Linked DNA regions of Homo sapiens: region 2 is linked to region 1. The links come from fine-mapping of genetic effects on gene expression. A gene starts in region 1. The other region holds a variant in brackets. All regions are shown on one strand. Distances are from middle to middle. Region 1 holds the start of CNTN4-AS1 (CNTN4 antisense RNA 1). Region 2 overlaps CNTN4 (contactin 4).

What was found. PIP is the estimated chance that this variant, and not a neighbour inherited with it, causes the effect.
Region 2: its variant is the best candidate, but not a certain one, in a credible set for the expression of CNTN4-AS1 in thyroid (GTEx, PIP 0.51).

Annotation. Positions count from the first base shown.
Region 1 is chr3:3,057,866-3,063,251 of GRCh38, forward strand. It overlaps CNTN4-AS1 (CNTN4 antisense RNA 1), which reads right to left and starts at 3,280. Exons shown (of 4, transcript NR_046554.1): 1 at 3,202-3,280. It overlaps CNTN4 (contactin 4), which reads left to right. Exons shown (of 25, transcript NM_175607.3): 25 at 1-94.
Region 2 is chr3:2,417,693-2,423,078 of GRCh38, forward strand. The region is part of intron 3 of CNTN4 (contactin 4); the gene reads left to right. Among named protein-coding and RNA genes, the nearest start is that of CNTN4-AS2, 280 kb to the left of the region's middle. RefSeq lists an enhancer at 1,139-1,308. The variant A/C (reference allele first, on the strand shown) is at 3,109.

The sequences.
Region 1 (5,386 bases):
GTTCCCAACCCCAGTGTAAATGATATTTACCAGTGATCTAGCATATGTAATCTTTTTTAAAGGTATTGTTAATAAATATTCTGTCATTTGTAAAGATACTTGTCTTTCGGGAGCATTTTTCCTGCCTGCCTGTCAGGGAATTTGTTAGCTTACCTTTGTGCTAGTTATAATTTGGGATCATAGAGGGACTCAAAAGTCTCTACCCAAATCTAGATGACCCAGAGCTTTTCCTTTGGAATTGACAACCCTGAAGCACCATTTCAAATCCTCTTTGGAAGTAGAGAGGGTCCTAATCCACAAGTAAATGTCCTGAAGATGAGACTTGAATATTTTCTCTTGATTAGCTAAGTCTTTTGTATATTTACTGTAAGTATATCTGTTGTTTCCCTCACCCCCCATTGCTAAAAGGGTAAGTTCTAAGCTTGAGCATTTAAGGCTCTTTTTTTTTTGAGACGGAGTCTCACTCTTGTCACCCAGGCTGGAGTGCAATGTTGCGATCTCGGCTCACTGCAACCTCCGCCTCCCAGGTTCAAGCAATTCTCCTGCCTCAGCCTCCCGAGGCGCCCACCACTACACCGGACTAATTTTTGGATTTTTAGTAGAGACGAGATTTCACCATGTTAGTCAGGCTGGTCTCAAACACCTGACCTCAGGTGATCTGCCCGCCTCGGCCTCCCACAGTGCTGGGATTACAGGCTTGAGCCACCGCACCCGGCCCTTAAGGCCCTTTTTAATCCAAAACGATTTAACTGTGTATCCAGCCACAGTAAGCCCTCCCTGACCCCTGAACACTGCTTGCTTTTGGTCTCACCTCTGTGCCTTTGGTCTTATGGCTGCCCCTTCCTGAAATGCCTTCTCCACCCTTCTCTCCCATTCAGATCCCTGCTGTCCTAGGGTAGCTCCAGCCCCAGTTTGTCTGCAAAGACTTCCCATGCTTCAGTCCTTTATGACATTCTCGCTTGGAAGTAGTTGCATCCCCTATCAATGCTGCTCATTTAGTAATTAATCAGATACTACTTTTGGAAATCTCTTGTACTGTTATCTTGCATTTTAATTTAACTCCTGTATTGTTACTTACTTTTTCTTGTATGTATGGCTTGTCTTCCCAACTAGATTGTAAGCTCCTTGAGGGCAGGGACTTTGGTCTTATCTTCCATGTACTCTCCATAGTGCCTAGCACAGTGCCTTGCAATAAATACTCACTGATTAATTGAATGAAGGGGTCTTTGAAGTAGCATTTTGCATCAGTTGCCTGCCTGTGTGCCACAGCAAACCAACCAGGGAAGACTGTGTCATTACTTTCGTTATGTGCTGAAAAGCGTTAAAAGGCCTGGCTTCTAACTTTGTACCTGGAAGAAGTCTTTGACCAATTGGCTTCATCATCGGGTAAATGAGGTCCTGGATTAGTTGAGTCTAACTGAATTGAAGATGTTTTAGAAAGTGCCCCATGAGCACCTCCACCCAAACTTGTCTCATTTGTTGGCTTTCATGGTTGCCTCAGGTAGGGTCCACTGGCTGTAAGCAAAGAAACGACCCTGGGTAACTTGAGCAAACAAAAAGTAAGGAATTAGAATGACACAGGTTACATCATATGAGCCAAGGAAACACTGAAGGACCAACTCTTGAGGAGAATAAGAACCAGGCCACTCTGTGGGTCCAGACAATGGGAACTTTGGAAAGTCTTTTTGGGGTGCTATTGTGGGGATGAATCAGCTTTGTTTCCAATTTTGACGCCATTATGCTCAATATTCAGATTCCTGGGAAAGTGATCAGTTCCATTTGAGTTCCACAGCCAGAGTACCTTGTACTCACAGGGGAGGGATAGTTAAAGGAAAACTAAGATGCTGTTTTCCAAAGGTAAGAGAAGAAATGCTGGGTTGGTATAAGTAACAGATTTTCTAGGCTTAGCCAGCCAAGGGGACTTTCTTAGGCCCTTAGCCCAAGTAATACACTCGAGTGGAATGACTATATTGCTGCTTGAGATTTTTTTCTGAAGGAGGACCACTAGGAAAATTTGCTTTGCTTGTTTAACCTTTCAAAGTGCTTACTCTTGCCCTCCTTTTTGTGTGTGTAGTCCACTTGTGATTTAACTGTATGAAAGGAAATTCTATTGTGCCAGATATTTGGATTCTCTCAGTGTACCTACTTTCTATGGAGCCCACACATGCTACATACAAAGCAGCACCTTTCCATGGGCACAGAAGACATGGATGATAAGCTTCATTTCTCAGGTAAGCTCTGAATTCTTCCAGCCTGTGAGGTAGAAGGTGCATAGACTTTGATATTAAGAAAGAATGATTGTGTTATTCCCACCATCAAAATTGTGGTTGTTTATATCCAGGAGGCAATGTTAAATCCTGATTAACCTTTACCCAGTCTCTTCCACCACCTTGCCTCACTACAAATATGCGCAAAGAATGTTGAGTTATAAAAAGTATACAAATAGCACATAATTAGCAACAAAAATGTCATGCAGTTTTTAATCTAATGTAATCAACCAACAGGTGATTTTTGTTCACTACATTGGATTATCGATGCTACTGTTCTCCTCCGTTAACACTTATAATCAAGAAGTGACTGTTATTTTCCTGTTGTTACAATTTACAAAATGTTCTGGCTAAAAACGTTATGTGGCCAACCATAGTGCTTTGAAAGGCAAGCCTTTAAAATCAAGGACTTATATTCAATCTGTGGACATACCCCAGATTTTTCCATTACAAAATGCCAGACACTGAGGCCTTACAAAGGCAGCCTAATACAAAGACTAAGGACGTGGATCCTGGAGTTTGACTGCCTGGGGTGCATTGTAATGATTGGCTACTTATTAGGGAGGATAAAGTTTGTAAAGCTCTCCAAACAGTGATGATTTTACCGTCTGTTATTGTTCTTTTTCTCCAGGGACTTTACTAGACCCACAGATGTAGGATGTGGATGCTTCTTATCACCAAAATGAGTGGAACTCAGCTGACACATCCATTATCACCTTTTATTTAAACATGATCACTTCTTAATATAAATTTTAATGTTCGATAATTTTAATCATACAATCAACTAATTCAAACTTAGGCAGTAGGGTTCCCATTCAGATGCCAGGTTTTGCACAAAGCCTCCCTCAGCTTCCCCATCTGAAATTGACCTTGCATTTCTCTGACCTCCAGGGGATGGGGTCTGTACCCACTCATGTCAGTCATCCCTTCGTACCTTATATTTAAATCATTTTTGTTGGTGTCTTCCGCCTTATAGTAGACACACGGCACCTCAGCGTTGGCATCTGGGTGTGGTTCCTCATTGTGCTCCCAGGCACAAGGCCTGTGTCACCTCCATCTCAGACCTAGAGGGAGGAGAATATCTGGCCCCGTTTCCTGTGATTTCCTCAGGCCCCCTGCCAGAGTGTGATTAGTAAATGCAAGTCAGGCTGCCCATTCTGCAAAGAGGCCCCGTTTCCCCTTGTGCTAAATGGGCCATGCGGATTAAATGTTCCAGCTCTGCAACTCACCTGCAAACTACAATACTCAACAGAGATCACAGTTTAAACAAAATTGGCCTCTATCCTTTATCACAAGCAGTTATGGGCCATGGTAGATTAGCAGAGCTCTAGTGATATAGATCACATAGAGAGAAAGCTTTTTTTAAAAAAGGTCAACCATATGATCGATCTGAAAGTCTGGAAATTGGAAGGCTGAGCTACTTAAATATAGATGCAATTACATGTGATATCCCCATTCTCTGTAAACTGGGTTTTTGCCACATATCCTTATTGTTAGGAATAACACGAACTATACCAGGAAATATATATGTCCTAGGACTTTAACAAATAGTAATATCTTTAATTTGTTTTTCTAGTTTTCAAAGTGCTTTTCACACTAATAAGGGGAGGACATAGGTTTTTATTCCTTTTTTATTTATGAAATGGAAGCAAAGAGGTTATATAAGAAGCCCAAAGTAACATAGACAATTAGAAAGTCAGGGCTGGGCATGGTGGCTCACACCTGTAATCCCAGCACTTTGGGAGACTGAGGTGGGGGGATCACAAGGTCAAGAGTTCGAGACCAGCCTGGCCAACATGGTGAAACCCCATTCCTACTAAAAATACAAAAATTAGCTGGGCATGGTGGCACGTGCTTGTAGTCCCAGTTACCCAGGAGGCTGAGGCAGGAGGATTGCTTGAACCTGGGAGGCAGAGGTTGTAGTGAGCTGAGATTGCCCTACTGCACTCTAGCCTGGGCAAGAGAGTGAGACTCTGTCTCAAACAAAAGAAAAAAAAAAAAAGAAGGACTAGAATTTAGAACATAGACTCATTAGTGCATTTCATACACCTAGAAATAAGTACTTAGAGAAAGGACAGGATGGAGTAAGGAACTAGACTCTGAAGTTCAACTAGAGAACATTCTAGGACAAGTAGGTAGGCCAGAGGAAATGGTGAGGTAGAAGGGTGAGATGTCTGAGGTTCAGATGCTGGAGGTGGAGAAGTTCTGAGTGCCGGCCAGGCCCAGGGCACAGCCATCTGGAGGAATGGGATAGGATAGGTGCCTGGAGAGGGTTTTAGTTATTCAGCAAGGGACTACTGGCAGCCCTCTCTGTACCAGGCACTATTCTGGGCATAGAAGAATGATGTGGCATTCAGATGTGTGTGAGGAAGCCAAGGCACCAGTAACAGTATTTTGTCACAATACAGAGAAATGCAATGATAATAATAATAGTAAACAGTGATTATGCTTATAATATGTGCCAGACTCAGTGCAAATCAACCTACCGATTTAGTTACCATTTATTATTCCTATTTTATACACAGAGGATTGAGGTTGACAGGTTCACATTTGTCCCTGATCACACAGTTGATCAGAGAGACCAGGAATTGAAATGCTGGTGGCTTGGGTTTAGGGCCCTACTCCAAAACATTAGATGTCTCTATCTGTAAATAGATGATACATAAACAATAAGGTAGGTAGATAGATAAATAGACAGATAGATACGGTTCCCATATAGCAACAAGAAGGAAAGGCAGTCATGAGCTTCAGTCTGCTCTAAAGTGGCTCAGCTTCTCTGCTTCTCTTTCCTTGACTGCAAATGTTGTTTTTTGCGTGTTCGTTGTCCTTGACTTCAGGTGTCTTAGAGCTGTTTCTTTAAACTCCGGCTACCCTTCAAGATCAGGATTACCCAATAAAATAGGAGAGGAGCTATTAAACTTAGATTTCAGATAAAAAAAAAATTATGCTTCCTTAGTATAAGTATGCCCCATGTGATATTTATTTGAAATTCAACTTTAACTGAGCCTCTTATTTTTATTTGCTAAATCTGGCAACCTGACACCAGGAGGTCTTCATTACTCTCATTGAAGTAATTAATTTGTAATTCAAAATTTCAGGGTCTTGCGAATGTGTTGTCA
Region 2 (5,386 bases), 640 kb before region 1:
CAGCTTTATTCACAATTGCCAAAACTTGGAAGCAACCAAGATGTCCTTCAGTAGATGAATGGTTAAGTAAACTGTGGTACACCTAGAGAATGGAATAATATTTGGCACTAAAAAGAAATGAGCTATCAAGCCATGAAAAGACATAGAAGAAACTTAAATGTGTATTACTAAGTGAAAAAGCCAATCTGGGAAAAAAGCTATATACTTTATTATTCCAACTATATGACATTCTGGAAAAGGTAGAATGACTATGGGAAGAGTAAAAAGATCCGTGGTTGCCAGGGATTTGGGGTGATGGAGAGATTAATAGAGCACAGAGGATTTTTACGGCAGTGAAACTAATCTATATGATACTATAATGATAGATACAGATACATGTTATTACAAATTTTTCCAAAACCATAGAGTGTAAAACATAAGAGTAAACCCTAATGTAAACTCCGGACTCTGGGTGATAATGATATGTCAATGTGGGTTCACTGATGATAATAAATATACCGCTGGTGAGGTATATTGATAGTTCAGAGAGGCTGTGTGTATAGGAGGGCAGGCATATATGGAAAATCTCTGCACCTTCCCCTCAATTTTGCTGTGAACCTAAAGCTGCCTAGAAAAAATAAAGTCTGTTAAAAAATCACCACAGAGGCAAAATGTGAGATTAGAACAACCTCTTCAAAATAATACACAGAAAGTATTTACAAATGCTAACTAAGACATAGGGTTCAAAACGTAAAACTGCTCACAGCCCAGGTACTAAAATTAGATCAATCTAATCATTAGATACTCAATCATTAGATACAATAGAATTTGCCCCAGTAGCAAATGTTTACTTTTGATTCTGTTATACACTACTTAACATGGTCCAGTGTCAGCATAAGGCTGTAATTTGGCGATTGCATTTCTTTATTTAATAACTGCTGATAAAGCTGAAATAAAGAATCAGTAAAAAGGTTTCACTTTTGTAAAGCACATCCAGGGTTTATAGGAAAGGAAATATTTCAGCATTTCTGATATATAAAAGAACAAAGGTGTTATATTAAGAAAAAATAATACATAAAACAATATCAGGGACATTGAATTGATGAAAGTAATCAGTAACATTTTAAATCCATGTTGGCTTGCATTGTGAAAGAAGGGAATAATTTACAGTTCATGATATTTGTATTTAGATGTTTGTATTTTTATTGTGTTTAGAGAATCCCAGGAAAGGAAAGAATCCTACAACCCGTAGGATGAAAAAAGCTTTGGATCTCATGCCAGGACAAGGGCACTGATGCCCAAAAAGATAAAGGCCTTCCTCAGAATCTTATGGGAAAAGTCAAATTATTTAAAATTAGCTCCAGGGTTCATGAGTAAGATTAATTGGTAGAAGTTAAATGGCTATATGGTTCACGTTTAAAAATAATTTCTAAAAATTGGATACCCCTTATGAGAGAAAATATAAGTGGCTTTGAGTAATAGTTTATATTCCAATTATTGCAAGTAATCAATCATATACCAGGTAATTTCCTGACATGAGTTACATACCAAAAATTATATTGGATGAAAAGCTCGAATGAATATAGGTAACATTCCACTCTAATGTAGCTTTCTGTATCTTAGAACATTCAACTTTATTAAGACTTTATAGTTTTTAGGAATAGAGTTAATAAAGAACTTGGAATCTTCTATCAAGAAATAAAGAGGTGGGAGTGGGGAGATCTACCTCTGGAGATTCTCATGTGTTCAGGATATATTCAACGTTTATTTGTTCCTAGGCAGGGTACAGAATAAACTGATACCCGTAAGTCCATTCTAGCCCAATGTTTCAAAAAATGCTGGCATTTTAGTGAAATGTAATATGGATAACATAAGGTAACATTGCGAATAGTGAAGTCTGCAACTAAAAGATAAAGCATTTAAATGTCAAATAGCATTGTGTAAATAAATCTAAAATGAAATTTTCAACCAGTTTTTAAAACTTACTTCCACTAACAAACATAACATAGTGTCATGCAGAAGATGATGAGGAAGCAAAGAATATGTTAAGGAAACCTGTAGAAAACCAAATGCCTTCTTGTATTAAATGAGTTTACCATGTCTTTCAAGGAATAATCATGTTTATACAAATGTGTGTGGTTTCCAGGACCCATTTTTCTTTTCCTTCCCTATACATGCAAACATATACAAATATATCAGCTCACATACTTATTTCCCTGTGGTTTCAGACTATTAAATGTTTATAATTACTCTGCTTGATGACTGTAATTTTTAGTTACAGATCGAATTGTCCCAGGTGTGGATGCTGCCAAAAGCCACGGTCATTGGCAACATGACATCTGGAAGACAGTCTGGCATGTAGAGTCAGGGAATTTGCTAGAAGTTGTTCCTCATACAGTGCAATAGTACAAGCAAGCATTGTGACTCCCTGCAGCTGGTGCTGTCAGTGCCCTATCCATATGCCTCAGACCTTTAATTGTGTTTCTGAGGAATGCTTCTAACTCCTAGTATCTGCAGGTTTGTTCCTCAGCACTTTTTCCAAAAACTGTGGGAAATTGCACTGCTTATATGCACAAGTGAGCTTCATATAAGGAGAAAGAAAACCCTCTAGGAATAGTTCTTAATTAATGACTCTCAAGAGGTGCTGTATAAATACCAACTTCTCTCACCTCTCTGGTGGGATAACTCTGTGAGGTGTGCTTTATGTCATGTCAGAGTTTCTCTGCAGGATTGCCTGCTATATTCACTGCTTGAATAGAAAATTCTTTTTTTTTTTTCCTTTGAGACAGAGTCTCACTCTGTCCCCCAGGCTGGAGTCCAGTGGCACAATCTCGGGTCACTGCAACCTCTGCCTCCCAGGTTCAAGCAATTCTTGGGCCTCAGTCTACCGAGTAGCTGGGACTACAGACATGCACTACCATGCCCACCTATTTTTTGTATTTTTAGTAGAGACACGGATTCACCATGTTGGCCAGACTGGTCTTGAACTCCTGGCCTCAAGTAATCTGCCTGCCTCTGCCTCCCAAAGTGCATTGCAGCTGTGGGCCACCGCGCCTGGCCAAATGTTCTTTACTGGACGCCTTCAATCCCCTTGTCATTTCCTCATTTTCTTTCTGGCCTGCACTTCTT[A/C]AACTAGTTACACTGTAATACTTGTTTTAGAGTCTGCTTCTGTGATTAACGTTTCTGATCAGTAAAATGGCATAGCACTGCTTACCTCAAGAGATGGCCGTATTTTGTCAGAGAAAGAATGTACTTCACGTTTTGCCTAATAAAGTAAACGTTCAGGACCCAGCAGTTGCATTTTAAATGATCCCAGTGTTTGCCCTGTTTTTGAAGTACACATGTGCTTCTGGGAAAACTCAAACTAAGACACACCCCACACCCAACTGGCAAACACATGCCCTGTTGAAAGAGTCTGCAGAAGAGTCCTTGCTTCAGGTACATTTTTCACATTCCAGTCCCAGTTTAGCCCTCCCCCATCACCTTAATGACCACCATTGCATAACAAGCAATGCCTTCTTGTGAGGCATTAGAGGTGACTAGGAGTGAGCTTTAGGGTGGGTACCCTTCAGGGGGTTTCTTTTTTTTTTTTTTTCCTTGACTAGGAGTCTGGCTCTGTTGCCCAGGCTGGAGTGCAGTGGCGTGATCTCAGCTCAGTGCAACCTCTACTCACGGGTTCAAGCAATTTTCCTGCCTCAGCCTCCCGAGTAGCTGGGATTATAGGCACTTGCCACCATGCCCAGCTAATTTTTGTATTTTTAGTAGAGACATGGTTTCACCATGTTGGCCAGGCTGATCTCAAACTCCTGACTTCAAGTGATCTGCCCACCTTGGTCTTCCAAAGAGCTGGGATTACAGATGTTAGCCACCGCTCCCAGCCCCAGCCTTCATATTGTTTATCTTGATTTCTTTTTTCTTCTCTGTTGTAGTGGATAGCACCAGACAATCAGTAGTTGAAGCCCTTTTCACATCTTCACTGGGCATTCTATTAAATGACATATGTGTTCTCCCCAAACTCTAACATCTGTTCATTGAAAATAGGGCAAACACCAAGACCATTTGTAATACAATTGCTGACTATTGAATATTTACTTTGTTAGAAAAAATGCTAAGTACTTTACAATATTTCTCTGCAATAAAACTCATCTTTTGAGCTAACAATGCTATTCTCATTCTACTAAGGAGAAACTTTAGTCACAGAGAGATTAAATAATTTGCTCAACAACACACAAGGAAGTAAGAGTCTGGGAGAGAATTTGTACTTTTCCCTTCCTTTTAGATGTCATTCATAAAAAAAAAAAATTAGTGTACCTGATTTTGTACTCCTAGCCACTATTTAATCCTGCCTCTGTAATTAGCTTTTATGGATAAGTTTATCTTTCCGTACTCAGAAAATAAAATAGTAAAATAAAAAGGCAGCACAAGGTGTCACTAAGTGGCTTTCACCAGAGGTGAAGTTGTACAGAATTAGAGAGGGGTTTTAACCACATCTAGAGCACTGCCCATAGAGGAATGCAGACCAATTTCTGAAGTCAATTTGTGTTATCCCCTGCTCCTTAACCTGGGTTCCAATACCAGTTACATTTAAGGAACTCTCCTTCCCCCTCTTTCCAGACATTTCCATGGTAGAAACACAGTAGTAGTTCAGGAGTTAGGAGACCTGGGCTTTAGAGCTTTTTATAAAATGGGATGTCTGAATTTGATAGTGTGCAATGTTCCTTCCAACTCCAAACAGATGTTGTCATTTTCACAGCCTCTAGAAGCCACAGGTACCTTCTCAATTAGAAGTTCTAAATGATTTGTAATAGTGAGCACTATTTGGATTCCTGACAGCCTATATCAGGAAAATAAGCAAAGTTTTGGATCAAGTGCTTATATCTAAAGCCATTGCTTTATAAGCTGGTCTTCACTGCCAATTCCTTCTTCCCTATAGATTGTTGGTATTTCTGGTCTGGATGGGTTACAAGAATTTATTTTATTGATTTCCTGAATCTCTGTACATCCTTAAAATAATTCAGAATTGGAAAGAAATACATTTAGCTCTTTGTCACATAGTGTAGAGATCTTTTGACATAAAGAGAGAGCTGCTGATATTCTGTTTCCCCTAATGCCTGAGTGTGGCATGGTTTCAAAGGGTTGCTTTATCACATGTAGACATGGAGGGACCATCAGGTAATGAGATATAACATTTCCTGGAAATTAATTAGTGGTGTGTTGTCCAGGAACTAAATTTCTTTTACTCCTGTTTGCCACCTGTCCTGGATGTCTAGTGCCGAATTTGAATTTCCATGCCAAACTGAAAAAGCAGCATTGGCTTTAGTTGCCCTCTTTTTCACATTAACTTAGGGTTTTAGCATGTAAAGCGACTGCGTTGTTTTAGTGGAATGAACTTAGAATGAACTTCAAC